2 separate regions of the Homo sapiens genome follow, and region 1 is linked to region 2. A link means that fine-mapping ties the variant in region 2 to the expression of a gene that starts in the linked region. Tissue or cell type: cerebellar hemisphere. Region 2 holds a variant in brackets; the other region holds the start of a gene. All regions are shown on one strand. Distances are between the middles of the regions.

Region 1 (8,182 bases), 68 kb after region 2:
ATTCAGAAACAGAAAATCAAATACTCCATGTTCTTACTTATAAGTGGGAGCTGAACAATGGATACACATGGACTTAAACATGGAAATAACAAACATTGGGGACTGGAAAAGGAGGAAGATTGAGGGAGATTGAAAAATTACCTATTGGGTACGATGTTCACTATTTGGATAATGGGTACACCAGAAGCCCAGTCCCCACCAGTAGGCAATATATCCATGTAACAAACATGCACATGTACCCCCGACTCTAAAATAAAATTTCTTTAAAAAAAGAACTGTTTATTTTGCAAACAATGATTTCCGCAGCCACCATCTCAATCCTATCTGTCCAGATCAGGTCCAGAAAACCTGCCTTCCTTCGTAACTTTCAGGGAAGTGTCTGCTCTGAACTCCACTGAGCCCCTGTACAATACTCAATCCTTCCTACTTCAAGTTACTCAAACTTAGTAACATCCTACTTACATGACAAGCTCCATGAGAACAGGGGCAACCAGCTTCTCACATATATTACACTCACCCCCATACAAAGCCTTGCACATACTGTGGCTCAATAAACACTTTCTAAATAAATGTTCCTGAGGCCGAAAGCCTCCCATACTATCCCTACCCTCCAAAGCCCACACCATGAGGGATGTTTTAAGCAAGCACCTTGAAGAGATGTGATTCTTGCATTAGAACTGAAGATTTTATTGGATATGCTCTGAGTTTTTTCCAACTCTGAGAATCTGAGTTAGGAAAAGTCAGAAAGGGACAGATGACGGGCAACATAGGCTTCCGGCTACATCTTCAATCAAGCTACCAAGGACTCCCTTGATTATGACCAGAAATCATGTGTCAGGGACTACATCTATTTATGCGTGCACGTATATGTATATACACTTACATGTATGTGTATACATATACACATATACATGTATATCTGCAAATGCATATCTATCTCTCTGTTCCCTCTGTAAGAAATTAAGCAGACAGGCTGGGCGCAGCGGCTCACACCTGTAATCCCAGCACTCTGGGAGGCCAAGGCAGGCGGATCACCTGAGGTCAGCAGTTTCATACAGCCTGGCCAACATGGTGAAACCCCATCTCTACTAAAAATACTCTACTAAAAATTAGCTGGGCATGGTGGCAGGCACCTGTAATCCCAGCTACGAGGGAGGCTGAGGCAGGAGAATTGCAGGAACCCAGGAGGCGGAGGTTGCAGTGAGCCGAGATCGCACCACGGCACTCCAGCCTGGGAGACAGAGTAAGACTCTGTCTCAAAAAAAAAGAAAGAAATTAAGCAGACAAACATCTACAAGGTTTCTGAGGCCCTGAAGCCAGCGCAAGGATGTACAAATAACTAGGAGTCTCTTTCTTCCCCTGGTATATGAACGGGGTAAGGCAAATAATGCTCTACAGTAATGTTCCCCATAAAATACCAGCACACCTGCCAAGCAGTTCTACCTCCCTCAGGTATCAGCGTCTGACACCCTTTCAAGAAAGTGCCAAGTGGCCAAGCCCTGTTCTTGGAAGAAACGGGAGCTCATATGTGTGAGATGCTTTGAAGAGATGCTCACATACAGTGGAGGGGGAGAAGGAGAAGCATACTTTGGAACATTAAATATTAAATTGGAGGCCACCTGTCAATAGAAAAACTCTAAATAGAACTAGATTCATTTTAGAGAACCCAGGTTTCCAGGCTATACTTCCATTTCTCTGGAAAAAAAAAAAAAAGTTATGCCTACTTTTATACAAAGTAGAAGTCCATCTTCTTACCATATCCAGCTAGTGGCAAGTTCTCTGAGCTAACCTGAGGGTAAAGTGGATGGAGAGCTGGCTGAGAATGCCACACAGCAATCAAGCAAACACTTTGCCCAAGGGTCAAACTAAGTGGAACACTTGTTGACGGAAAAGTCGTGGCATAAACCATTTGTGGTCTCTCCCTAACTTTCTCAGTGTTTTTGAGCAGTAGAGAGAGGACAGGAACCACCAACACAAGTTTTTCCTACCATCACTAGGTTTCTCACCACTGTACCTGGGATATTCTGCTTCTTTCCTTCCTAACCTATCTCCGTCAATAGCATGGCATCTTCTGCCCTTTATGTGCAGCCAATCACCACCCAAGAGAGGCAGAGATCTAACTATCCAAAAAATGCATTCAGACAGATAAAACAAGAGCCAGTGCAAAATGAAACACATCAGCGCCGCTCAGGAAGCTTCCAGGACCAACCACAAACACTCTTTTTCAATTTACAGACAGGTTTTTTCCTTTTTCACCTGACTACTGACTCGCCCAACTTGGGATAACCACCAGTCAGAAGCTTTTAAATGCATGTATCTCATGCCAGGGGGCCAGGTGTAAACCAAGGCCAGTTGAAAACCGGCGCCATTTAATGAGATGTGGGTTTAAATGGGCCTATTTCTTTTTAACCTACCATTGCAGAGCAAGAAGTGAGCTTGGAAGCCTGCAGTTTAGCGATTGTCACCGACCCCTTTTCTAAAGTCAAGGCAATTAGGCCCATGACTGTTAAAAGTCTATCTCAAAGCTCCTGTCCTGCGCACATCAATCACAGTCACGGCTGAAAACAAACACAGAATTTTAAAAATTTCTTTATCCACACCCAAGGACAAGTGTGAGGGCAGCCGAGAAATCATGGCGACAGGAACAGCCGGTGTCCAAGGGGGCAGCTGCTTCTGAGAACTGCTTTGAGACAGGGCAGAGAACCAACCCAAGGTACTTTTCTCTCCCAATGTCTCTCCCCCGGCTCATTCACCATATTTCGGTCCAACAAACTGTTTTTCTCCTTTGAGAGGTTTATGGCGAGGGCAAGAGGGGCCGAAGGGACGCGAAGGGGCGACGCCAGGGATTTGTTGCTACACGTAAAGCTGGAAAACGTGCAGCTGTTTACTACCAGCGCCCCGGAGACGCCGAGCGCAGCTTGCAGCTGAGCGCTCCCCTCGGGCCCCGACCCCGCCTCCCCCACTGTGCCTGCCCCTCCGGCTTTGGAGGCGACGCGCCACCTGCCCTCCCCGACGCGCTCGCCGGACGCCGAGCCGCCCAACCAACACCGCGCGGGCCCCCACGGCATCAGCTCGGTCTCCCCTCAGCCCCCGCGCCCACGCCGCGCGCCGCCCACACCAAGTTACCTCGGAGGCCCGGGTTGTCGTCTCTGGCCCGAATCTTTCGGATTTTGACGGGGCGCCCGCTCAGGGTAGACAGGACCAGACGTTGGCGCAAGAAGTTGCACCCTGCGTAGCTGAGGGAGTGCGCCTGAGTCGCCATGTGCGCGCTCTCCGAAGAGACGTGAGCAGCCCGAGAGCGGCGACTTCGGACAGACGCGGGACTCGTGACTCCGATGGTGGTGGTGGCGGCGACACCGACGGCGGCGGCTCGGGCTGCCTCCAGCAGCCCAGACGCGTCCACGTGGTTTGGAACAGGAAGACGGAGAGACTAGACACCGGGTCAGAGGGGAGCGGGGCGGAGCCAGTGGCCACCTCCCCGCCTCCCCGCCCGACCGGGGCGGCCCCCGCTTCGGGCCACGCCGCTATTGGCCCGCGCCGGATCAGGGCGGTGCCCGCGCCGCGCCTCCATTGGCTTCCGCTGAAGCTGGGCGGTGCCCAAGCCGCGCTGCCATTGGTCCGTAGTGGAGCTGGGCGGTGCCCGGGCCCTGGCAACAGCGCGCGGCTGGAGGGAACGCGGGAGGATGGCCAGGGAACCCCGGCGCGGGAGTTGCCAGTCGGGGCAGTCTCCTCTGTGTACCTCCTGGCGTGGTAGCAAGGGGAGATGGCGGACTGAGATTGATGCCTACGACGTGCCGGATTCTTAGCATTACTACTTACGGCAACTACTGGGGTGAAGATGCTATTATCTACCCCTCCTCTTTCTTACTAAGAGAGACAACAAGGGTTGGTGCACTCACCCTATCGCAGGGATGCCGCTCAGCGCACTGCCGGCGCAGTCCCGCAGCTCCATGCTGTAACCCTGCAAGGTAGAGCCATCCTGTCCTACTCATGGATAAAGGCTCGAGGAATATTGCAAAGCTGACAGTGGCAGCCTATACTGAGACCCGAATCCTCCCACAGCAGGCCGTTGCTTATTTTATTGAGACACCTCTTTGCCCCTTTCTCACGGGTCCCTTCGTTTATCGTCATTGCGTTTCATGGCAATTCAGGCCCTCCTACCTCGCATGCTTCAAGATAGATAGTTGTAATAACTTCACACACACACACGCGCGCAATGCTTTTTCCCTCTTTCCCGTCCTCCTCCAATCCTGCACAAGAAAATCTTCCCAAACGTTGGATTATTTCACTTCTCTACTCAAAAACCTTCCAAAATGTACAGTTAACTAACAAATGACTACACAAGTAGAAGTCCGATATCATAGTAATGTGGGTTTGTAGCCATTCCTGGACAACACTCACCAAACCATGAGTCCCAGAATGCACGGGGGTTCGCGGGGGGAAGGGGGGCGGGGTATGATAGTGTCTGAAAGCGGTGGGAGTTTAAGATTAAGGGATGTAGCTAGCCTTATGTAGACAACAGTGTGTTATAAAGTGGAGTGGAGTGGCATGCTCATGACTCACTGCAGCCTCAACTTCCCGAGTTCTAGTAATCCTCCAACCTCAGCCTCCCCATTAGCTGGAACTACAGGTGTGCACCACCATGCTCAGCTAATTTTTGTATTTTGTATAGACATGGGTTTTTGCCATGTTACCCAGGCTGGTCTCAAACTTCTAACCTCAAGCGATTGGCCCACCTTGGCCTCACAAGTGTGAGCCACCACTCCCAGCCTTTAATCCATTTTTCTTTGATTTTTGTAAATGGCAAGAGATAGAGATCTAGTTTCACTCTTTTGCATATGGATATCCAATTTTCTCAGCATCATTTATTGAAGAGACTGTCCTTTCCCCAGAGTATGTTCTTGGCAACTTTGTCGAAAATGAGTTTACCGTAGCTGTGTGGATTTATCTCTGCGTTCTCCGCTCTGTTCTACTGATCTATGTGTCTGTTTTTATGCCAGTACCATGCCATTTTGTTTACTCTAGCTCTGTAGTATAATTTGAAGTCAGGTAATGTGATTCCTCCAGTTTTGTTCTTTTTGCTTAGGACAGGTTTGGCTATTCTGGGTCTTTTGTGGTTCCATATAATTTTTTTAATTTTTAATTTTTGTAGGTAGATGGTACATGTATATATGAGGTACGGGAGAAGTTTTGATACAGGCATGCAATGTGTGATAATCACATCCTGAAGGATAGGGTACTCATCCCCTCATGCATTTTATTCTTTGTGTTATTATACAAACAAAACAATTATACTGTTTTAGTTATTTTTAAATGAAAATTAAATTATTGTTGACTACAGACACCTTGTTGTGCTATCAAATAGTAGATCTTATTCTTTCTAATTTTTGTACACATTTATTATCCCCACCTGCCCCCCAACATCCCCACCCCCTCTATGTTTTCCAGTCTCTAGTAACCATCCTTCTACTCTCTATTTCCATGAGTTAAATTGTTTTGATTGTTTGATCCCACAAATAGGTGAGAACATGTGATGTTTTTCTTTCTGTGCCTGGCTTATTTCACTTAACATAATGATCTCCAGTTTCATCCATGTTGTTGCAAATGACAGGATTTCATTCTTTTTTATGGCTGAATAATACTATATTGTGTATATGTATCACATTTTCTTTATCCATTCATCTGTTGATGGACACTTTGACTGTTTTCAAATTTTAGCTATTGTGAAGAGTGCTGCAACAAACATGGGAGTGCAGATATTTCTTTGATATGCTGATTTCCTTTCTTTTGGGTATACACGCAGCAGTGGGATTGCTGAATCATATGGTAGCTCTATTTTTAGTTTTTTGAGGCACCTCCAAACTGTTCTCCATAGTGGTTGCACGAATTTACATTCCCACCAACAGTGTACAAGGGTTCCATTTTCTCCACATCCTCACCAGTATTTGTTATCGCCTGTCTTTTGAATATAAGCCATCTTAACTGGGATGAGATGATATCTCAAAATGAGTAGTTTGCAGATATGTTTTCTCACTCTTTGGGTTGTCTCTTCAGTTTGTTGATTGTTTCCTTTGCTGTGCAGAAGCTTTTTAACTTGATATGATCCCATTTTTGCTTTGGTTGCGTATGCTTGTGGGTTATTAATCAAGAAATTTTTGCCTAACCAATGTCCTAGAGATTTTCCCCAATATTTTCTGTAGCCATTTCATAGTTTGAGGTCTTAGATATAAGTCTTTAATCCATTTTGATTTGGTTTTTGTACACGGCAAGAGAAAGCAGTCTAGTTTTACTCTTCTGCATATGGATATCCAGGTCTCCCAGCACCATTTATTGAAGAGATTGTTTTTTCCCCAGTGTATGTTATTGGCACCTTTATTGAAAATGAGTTCACTGTAGGGTTATAGATTTGTTTTTGGGTTCTCTATTCTGTTCCACTGGTCCATTTGTCTGTTTTTATGCGAGTACCATGCCATTTTGGTTACTATAGTATTTTTTTTTAATTTTTCTTTTTTTTTTTTTTTTTTTTTGAGACAGAGTCTCACTCTGTCACCCAGGCTGGAGTGCAGTGGCATGATCTCAGCTCACTGCAACCTCCACCTCCTACGTTCAAGCGATTCTCATGTTTCAGCCTTCTGAGTAGCTGAGATTACAGGCATGCACCAACACATCCAGCTAATTGTAGTATAATTTGAAATCAGGTAATGTGATTCCTCCAGTTTTGTTCTTTTTCTTAGGATAGCTTTGGCTATTCTGGGTCTTTTGTGGTTTTATATAAATTTTAGGATTTTTTTTCTATATCTGTGAAGAATATTATTGGTATTTTAATAGAGACTGCTTTGGGTAGTATGGATATTTTACCAATGTTGATTCTTCCAACCTGTCAACATAAAATACCTTACTATTTTTTGTGGCCTCTTCAAAATCTTACATCAATATTTTATAGTTATCATTGTAGAGATCTTTCACTTCTTAAGTTCATTTCTAGGTATTTTATTTTCTTTTTAGCTATTGTAAATGGGATCACTTTCTTGATTTCTTTTTTGGATTGTTCATTGTTGGCATAGAGAAATACTACTGATTTTTGTGTGTTAATTTTGTATCCTGCAAATTTACTGAATTTGTTTATTAGTTCTAATATTTATTTGGTGGACTTTGGGTTTTTCTAAATATAAAATTATATCATCTAAAAACAAGGAAAATTTTTTCTTCTTTCTTTCCCCTCCCTCCCTCCCGTCCTTCCTTCCTTCCTTCCTTTTCTTTCTTTTCTTTCTTTCTTTTTTCTTTCCCCCCGCCTTTTTTTTTTTTTTTTTTTTTGAGACAGGATCTCACTCGGTCACCCAGGCTGGAGTGCAGTGGCATGATCATGGCTCACTGAAGCCTCAACGCCCCAGGCCCAAGTGATCCTCCCACTTCAGCCTCCCTGGTAGCTGGGACTACAGGCATGTACAGGCATGCTCCATCACACTCAGCTAATTTTTTAATTTTTTTGTAGAGATGATATTTCACTGTGTTGCCCATGCTTGTCTCAAAGCAATCTGCCTGCCTCGGCCTCCCAAAGTTCCGAGATTACAGGCATGAGCCACCCACACCCAAGGGTAATTAAATTTCTTCATTTCCTATTTGAATCCCCTTTATTTCTTTCGCTTGTCCAATTGCTGTAGCTGCAAACTTCCAGTACTATGTTGAATAAGAGTGGTGAAAGTGGGAATCCTTGTCATGTTCTGATCAAAGAAGAAAGGTGGCCAGTGTGGTGGCTCACACTTGTAATCCTAGCACTTTGGGAGGCTAAGGCGGGCAGATCACCTAAGGCTAGGAGTTTGAGACCAGCTTGGCCAACACGGTGAAACTCCATTTGGGTGTGGTAGCATGCACCTGTAATCCCAGCTACTGGTGAGGCTGAGACATGAGAATTGTTTGCATCTGGGAGGCAGAGGTTGCAGCGAGCTGAGATCGCACCACTGTACTCCAGGCTAGGTGACAGAGCAAGACTGTGTCTCAAAAAAAAAAAAAAAGATGAAAGGCTTTCAGTTTTTCCCCATTCAGTATGATATTAGCTGTGGGTATATCATATGTGGCTTTTATTATATTGAGGGATGTCTTTCTATACTCAGTATTGTTAGGGCTTTTATGAGGAAGCGATACTGGATTTTATCAAGTGCTTTTTCAGCATCAATTGAAATGA
Region 2 (8,182 bases):
GCTCACTCTGATTCCGCCTCCCCCAGCCGAACTCCACCCTCACCTCAGGCACGGCCAAAACTTTGGAAATTGTTTCACTGATGCTCCAGTGTCCCCAACTACCTTTGATTTCATCAACTGCTTCCAGCCTTCTGTACAACATCCTGCCTACTTCCTTTGCCTCCCTCTAGCACCTTCAACTCTTCTACTCAGGGCCCATAAAACTAAGTGCCAGGATTGGTCTCACCTAGCAGCCTCCCAACACAAAGACCTAACAGGAAATGGCCACCTCATGGTCTTCTGCCGTTTGGTGTGAGGACAGGCACCATGGTACAACTTGAATTTTTGTTTTTATAATTTGGGTCTGTGATTAGCTATCCTTTACCACTTTTTTGGAAATGATTTTTTAAAATAAAGAAAACCCAGAAGGGAAAGCATCAGGATAAATAGCTAATGCACCCTGGGCTTAATACCTAGGTGATGGGTGGATGGGTGCAGGAAACCACCATGGCACATGTTTATCTATGTAACAAACCTGCACGTCCTGCACAGGTATCCCAGAACTTAAAATTAAATTGGAAAAACAAAAACAAAAACACAAAAACTCCAGCCTGGACAACATCTCTAAAAAATTTTTTTTTAATTAGCTGGGTACAGTGGCTCATGCCTATAGTCCCAGCTACTTGGGAAGCTGAGGCAAGAGGATCACTTGAGCACAGGAGTTTGAGGTTACAGTGAGCTAGGACTGCACCACTGCACTCTAGCCTGGGTGAGACCCTGACTCAAAAAAGAATTTAATTTTTTTTTAAAAGAACAAAACCCCTGAGGCTTAGCTGCCCAGTGAGGGCAATGTGTAATTCAGCAGGTCCTCCTGTTGCTCCTTCCCAATCAACATGTCATGTTGCAACACACTGGCTGCCTCCCACCCGTTAGCAACTGTTTTGACCACTATGGTAAAATCATCATGATGGAGGCTGGCTGGAGTCTGCATGGAATGTAGTTAAAGGATGTTGAAAGACAGAAGCAGGGCCTTGTAGATGACAAGAAGGCAAAGAATGATACTGCCATGACCCCCAGCAAGTTCACAGGTTTATCTGCCTAAAAAACTCACACTCCCATTGAACAACTGCTGCCGTTAACTCAGAATGGTCTATCTCTATCAGCAGAAAGGAACAGACAGACCAAGATAGAAAACCAAGCCCCAAAACGCTGGAATCTCTCGCTTCAAGCTACCCCAGCAAGTAAGTGGACCGACCAGGAGCTAAGCTAGAAAAAAGGAAGAGAATGCAGGATTTGAATAGTCTCTAAGATGTCCCAGCAAACAGCAAAGGATGACTTCTTCCCGAAGGAATGGTACATTGCTTCTCTTGGGAATTTGAGAAGGGGCTGGGAGTGAGCTGTTTAAATAAATATTAAATTTGTCCTCTTTTTGGCAATACCATCACCATTCCTGCAAGATGTTCCAACTCCAGAAGCAGCTTTGCCAAATGCAGGGCTGGAACCACACCAGACACTTCCAGGTTTGCAGCAGACAGTAGCACATATCCCCTCTACTGCTTATAGTAATCTGCCTGGCCTCTATGTGCCACCCTACATTGACCAACAGCACCATTTCCAGAGCTTGTACAAGGAACGGCAGGTATGTGATATTCCAAAAGCAATGTGCCCCTTAGTTCTGGATTTGAGCTCTATATGGGCAGATCTGAGTTCGAACGTCAGCGGCACTAGGTAAGACTGCAGTATGTGTGGCAGGCAAAATTCTTAGATGGTAATCCACGATTCCCAGCCCCTGGTTATTTAAACACAAATCTAGTATTGCTGTTGTCAGTTGACCTTAAGATAGGGAGATAATCCAGGTAGGACTATTGTGCTATGAGTCATTTTTAAGCAATGTTTTCTCCAGCTGGTATCAAACGGAAGGTGAATCCAAAGTACCAGGATTCCATGCACCATTGCCAGCTTGAAGGTAGGGGAGACCAAGTGAACAGAAATACGGACAGTGCCTGTCTATATGCTAAGAGTTGTCCACAGCTCACAGCCAGCAAGAAAAATGGGAAGAAAACAGGTGACTTCAGTCCTACAACCCTGAATTCTGTCGACAACCTGAATGAGCTGGAAGCACATTCTTTCCCAGAGCCTTCAGATGAGAGCTGAGCCCAGCCCAGGTGACACACACCCTGATATCAGCCTTATGAGACTCTAAGCAGAGAATCCAACCAAGCCCTGCCTGGATATCTGACCTTCAGAACTGTGAAATGATAAAGAGGTATTGTTTTAAGCTACTAAGTTTGTGAGCATTTGTTATATACCAAGAGCATATTACCAATACAGTATGTAAAGCTCTCAGTAGAATGTCATAGTCCAGAATGTCCTGGCCTTCCTCAAGGTTAACTCTCTACCTCCACATCCTCCCACACCCCTAGACATCAAAGCACAGCCTTTCTCTAGCCCCTTTTCACTTAAAAAGCAAAAGGTACCGAGAGGGAGTGATGAGGCAAAGTTCACCCCCGGGGGAGGACACCATTTGGAATTCAAGTAGAAAGAAGTACATCTTTCCCCTTCTACAAACTTCAAGCCTATGCACATATCAAATGCAGACTCTATTAGCTGGCAGGGGAAATCTGCCATGGATCCTGGTATTCCTGCATATTCTTGCTGGGCAGGCTCTTGCCTGGGTTCTTTCTCAAAACTGTGTTTGCAGGAGGCAGTCTTAAGGGATGAAGTAATCTCTGCACGTGAAACAACAGGCTTGCCATGAAATAGGTGGAGTCCCCAAACATAACAAGTTCTTTGGCTATGATGCAAACTTGTAACATGCATAGCATCTACCTGGGCCCCTCCATGTCCACTGTGAGACAGGGGAAACCAATATAAACACGAAGTTCATGCTGCTTGCTATGCTGAGTAAAGTTCTTTATCTCTGACCCAGGATCCTCATGTCTTCTGGTAGCATCAATAAAAAAGTAATAATCTAACTTATTAGCTTGCAAGGGTAAAATCCCAGACCCTGACTCTATTACACTTATTACACTTAGATCCTTAAATGAGGAGATTTAATGTCTTTACATTATACATTTCAAAGGAACAAAACACCCTTTATGAATTTTCTCATGGAGATAGCACTTACATCACAGAGCTATTGTGAAAATAAAATAAGAATGTACAGCACACCTGGAATATAAAAACATCCCAATAACTTACTTGGAGCCCCGCAGCCATCCATCCCTCACATATAAATACAATGAACCAGATGAAGATCCGTGTCCGTGTCCATGACAGCAATCCATTCAGAAGATCAAAGATAAATAGTCTAATACACCAATTTCTGACATTTGCTTAGCACTGCAGGACTCATGAAGAGCTGCCACTCATATTATCTCATTTAATCCCTACAACAAAAACCAAGGCTCAAGGAGGTGAGTCCTTGCAGAAAGAACAGTAACAGACTCCACAGGTTTGCAAAACAGCCATATGACAGAGGGCTGAGGAAGCCTATGATAGTAGGCTGAGGAAGCACAGCTGAACTGCAGCTACGAGACTGTTCTAGCAGCACGACTGTGGCCTGAAGGCACATTCTTCCTCCAGGTAAGGCAAGGGAGCTCTCATGGTGACTGGGCCCCTCCTGGGCAATGGCAATGCCACTGGAGAAACAGCTGGAAACCATATGCTACAGGGATGTCTTTTATTTGTATATTGATATTTCTTCACAGAAAATTAAGCAAGTGGCTATTCTGTCCTGGATTAATCCATTTGGACTTGGTCCCATTGGTGTCCGTGGCAGCTTCTGCTTTGTCTGTAGGCA[T/C]TGGGGCCTTATCTTGTGATGGTTATCACTTGAGGGTCTTGCTAAGGTTGGAGAAACCAATGCCAACACAGGTCATCAGCACTTTATCCCCACCCTTGAGTTCTTCACCACATGGCTTGGTTTCAATTTTAAACATAATCTGGAAAAAGCTCTTCAAATGCCGCAAAAATTCTATCCTAAAAAGGAAAAAAATAAATAAATAAATAAAAAGAAATTCATTCAAAAAAAAATTATCCTCTACCACCTAGAATCCAAGGTTTTAATCTCCCAGACCTAGAGGGCTGAAGTTAAGACCTTCTCATCGAATCTGATTAAATAGTACTTCCTTTCAGCCAGCCAGTTTCCAAAGAAGATTTAGATAGTTTGCAGAGATACACGCAATACAGCAAGATAAATTAAACTGGGGGGGGAAAGGTTAGAAGTTCGTACGTGACACATAAGTTATTTAGTTCAGACCTAGCAGAAAATGGACAGAAATATGGTGATGACTCTTTTTTTTATAAGAGATGGGGTCTCACTATGTTGCCCAAACTGGCCTCAAGCTCCTGGGCTCAAGCAATCCTCCACCTCAGCCTCCTGACTACCTGGGACTATGGGTGTCCCAATGTACCTGGCTTAGGCAATGATTTTTGAGTGGCCTATACAAAGACAGAAACACCTATTTCCATGATTCACAGCACCATGACATTCAAAACAAGCACAATGACTACTGATGCTGAAACAGACAAGTCCCTCCCTTCATTCTCCAATAATACCCTCGCATTTACTTAATATGTATCAAGTGCCTACTGTATGCTAGGCACTGTTCTTGGTGCTGGGAATATTGCACTCAAATGAAAAAAAATAAAAATAAAAATCCTTCCCTCAGGAGGATTTCAATCTAGTGGTATAGATAGAGACTAGATAAATAAATTAATTTTATTCCTGAAAAGTGCTATGTAATGTAAACAAAGCAAACAACACAGACGGGGAAGAACTGTGGGTATGACAGTATTTGTACATATTTGGCAGAAGGCAATATTAAATAAGGTGGCCGGGGAAGTGTGCACAGTAAACACAACAAGGACAATGGCATCACAGGGCGATGGCATCAGTCCAAGAGTACCTTGGGAAGAGCAATTCTGTGGATGAACCGCAGTGCAGGTGCACAGGCTTCTAATGGTCTCGCCTGGCAGACCTAGCGTCACCCCAGCTAGCCTGACCATAAGACTCACCTGAACAGTTCATTAAATACACAGGTTCCTGAAGGTTATGGTGAACTTGCAACTGGTAGGAAATGTCCATATGGAAGAGCCCAGAATCACAGTCCACACACAAAGCTGATCCCTCCCTACCCTCCACCAGGCCCTGTACTCCCCAGTTCATAGAGGCCAGAAATCTATGTTGTTAACAAGAATCCCTGGCAAGTCTCATTGGGCAAGGTTAGGGAATACTGGCTTAGTGAAGAATGATGGCTTGCACATCTATAGTGAAGTATTACAAAAACCTCGCACTGTACTGTCTCCCAATCAAACCAGCCAAACTCTCCACTCTGGCCAGATGGTTCTCAATCTCGACTGCACATGGAATAACCTAAGGAGCTTTAAAAACACTGACGCTAAACACATAGATCAATGGAAGAGAATTGAGAGTCAAGAAATAAACCACACAGTTATGGCTAATTTCCTCAATGAGGAAAGCATAATCATTGCAACAAATGATGCTGGAACAACTGGATATCCACAGGTGAAAGAATGAAGCTGGGCCCCTTCCTCACATCACACACAAAACTTAACCCAAAAGAGATCAAAGTCATAGCTGTAAGAGCTAAAACTATAAAGTTCACTAAAGAAAATACAGGAGTAAATATTCATTACCTTGGGCTAGGCAACGGTTTCTTAACCATTTCTTAAATACAACACCAAAAGGATGGCAATAAGAGACAAAATAAATAAATTGGACTTCATCAAAATTAAAATACTTTGTGCATCAAAGTGCACCATCAAGAAAGTAAAAAAACAACCTACAGGATTGGAGAAAAGATCTGCAAGTCATATATCTGATAAAGGTCAGGCATCTCAACTATATAAACAACTCTTACAACTCAATAATAAAAAGACAAATAACCTAATTAAACGATGGGAGAGTACAGGCATGGTACCTCACACCTGTAATCCCAACAGTTTGGGAGGCCAAGGCAGGCAAATTGCTTGGGGCCTGGAATTCAAGACCAGTCTATTACGACCCCCATCTCTACAAAAAAATTGTTTTAAAATTAGCCAGGCATGATGGCAGGAGCCTGTAGTCCTAGCTACTCGAGCTATGATTGCACCACTGCACTCCCACCTGGGCAACAGAGTAAGACTCACTGAAAAAAAAAAAAAAAAAAAGTGGGAGAGCTAAACGGATATTTCCTCACAAATATCCAATAAGGACATGAAAAGATGCTCAACATCACTGGTTATTAGGGAAGTGAAAATCAAAACCACTGTGAAATATCACTTCATATCCAATAGGATGGCTATAATAAAAAGACATACAATAACAAAAGTGTGGGTGAGGAGGCAGAACCACTAGAACCCTCATACACTGCTGGTGGGAATGTAAAACGGTACAGCCGCTGTGGAAAACAACCTGGCAGTTCCTCAAAATGTTAACCGGGGAGTTACCATAGGATACGGTAATTCTACTCTTAGGAATATGTACAAGAGAAATGAAAACATACACCCACACAAAAACTTGCACGCAAATATTCATAATGGCATTATTCACAAGAGTCAAAACGTAGAAGCAACCCAAATGTCTACCAACTGATGAATGCATAAAATGTGGTATATCCATTCAATGGAAGATTTTTTTTTTTCTGCCATAAAAAAGGAACAAAGCACTGATACGTGCTACATCAATGAACCCTGAAAACATTATGCTAAGTGAAAGAATCCAGTCACAAAGGACCAGATAGTGTATGATTCTATCTACACAATATGAAAAAGCCACAACAGGCAAATCTATCACAGAGGCAGAAAGGAGATTCGTGGTTGCCTGGGGCTGGGGAGAGTGGGAAGAATGGGAGGCACTGTGAGCTGGCACAGGGTTTCTTTCTGGGGGTAGTAAAAATGTGCTAAAATTAGATTGTGGCTGTGGTTACACAAGTCTGTGAATACACTAAAAAACCTTTAAACTGTGTACTTAAAATGGGTAAATTGTGTCATATGTGAATTGGTTCTCAATAAAGCTTTTTAAAATAAAGAAATCAATACATATTTGCCATGCTATAAAACAACTGATCCTGGTTCTCACCCCTACTCGGTGTATACCAAACTACATATAAAGCCTGCCTTGATGAATTTCCCTCCCATCCCCATCCCTCTGTGCTAAGAGCACTGATCTAGTTAAAGGAAGGAAACAGCTACATGGAGAAAAGGGGGCCTGAACAATTCCTGACCCTGTGGCTGAAGTGACCAGCGCATCAGGGGCTAAGAGATGAAACATTAACAACCCTAGAGGGCAGGAGTTCTGGTCAGTGCTGGATGCTCATAGAAAAATCCCCCAATTCCTTGCTTTCCTTCCACCTAGGAATGTGCAACTTCATCTCGACCTTTAAAATAACATCCCATTTGTCAACTTTTCTATGAAGTCTTTCCTAGCCCATAAACCCTACCCCAAACGATCTTTCCCACCCCTCCAGGTTTCCATAGCATTCTCTGCTCATGGTGTCTAATTAAATGCTTATGTATCACTGTCCCCTTCCCCATCATTAAATTATTTAAGTACCTCAACAGCAATGCTTTTCTCCAACACTGAACCCGTTATTCAAACAAGGTACTGTATAAGGTTCTCAGTAAAGAGGCACTGAATAGAATTTAGCCTCAGTAAAGAGGCTCTTCTCCATCACTGAACCCGTTATTCAAACAAGGCACTGTAAAGGTTCTCAGTAAAGAGGCACTGGATAGAATTTAGGAGTTGGGGTAATTTTGAGAAACAATTTTCAACATTCTTGGCAATTAAGGGAAGTCAGCTTTCCCTGCTGGCTTTCCTGTCTTACTAACCAATTAAATTTCTGTTGTCGTTGTTGCTTTCTATCCATCCCACCATCTCCCCCATCCTGTCCTAGGGAAAAAAGAAAACACAGCAAACCACAGATAAACAGTCCACATCTGTGGGCAAAGCTTCCAGCTGGCGGCAACCTGGAAAAAGCCAGCCATCTCACCCACTCTGCATCTGAAGGAGAAAACAGATTGGTCTCTCCTTTGCTGCTGCCTCAAACTAACACAGGCCTGGGGCATGCTCTGCTCCCAGGATGTCACCCAGCCTACTTCACTCTGAATCACTCAACTGTGCTTGAAAAACCAGACACCCTCCCCAGCTGGCAGAATTTCTACGGGCCCTCAGCTTGCTTCTGATCTCTTGGAGAAGGATGGG

Evidence for each region. PIP is the estimated chance that this variant, and not a neighbour inherited with it, causes the effect.
Region 1: it holds the start of RCL1, and the variant in region 2 is fine-mapped to the expression of RCL1 in cerebellar hemisphere (GTEx, PIP 0.96). The same link has a PIP of 0.9 or more in tibial nerve.

The regions. Positions count from the first base shown.
Region 1 is chr9:4,788,172-4,796,353 of GRCh38, reverse strand. RCL1 (RNA terminal phosphate cyclase like 1) reads right to left here and starts at 3,410. Exons shown (of 9, transcript NM_005772.5): 1 at 3,127-3,410. The coding sequence starts at 3,262. RefSeq lists enhancers at 2,660-3,159, 3,234-3,283, 4,104-4,153 and a silencer at 3,364-3,723.
Region 2 is chr9:4,855,900-4,864,081 of GRCh38, reverse strand. It overlaps RCL1 (RNA terminal phosphate cyclase like 1), which reads right to left. Exons shown (of 9, transcript NM_005772.5): 9 at 3,016-3,957. The coding sequence ends at 3,807. It overlaps LOC124902113 (a long non-coding RNA gene), which reads right to left. Exons shown (of 2, transcript XR_007061402.1): 2 at 7,007-8,182. Among named protein-coding and RNA genes, the nearest start is that of MIR101-2, 9.7 kb to the right of the region's middle. The variant T/C (reference allele first, on the strand shown) is at 3,782.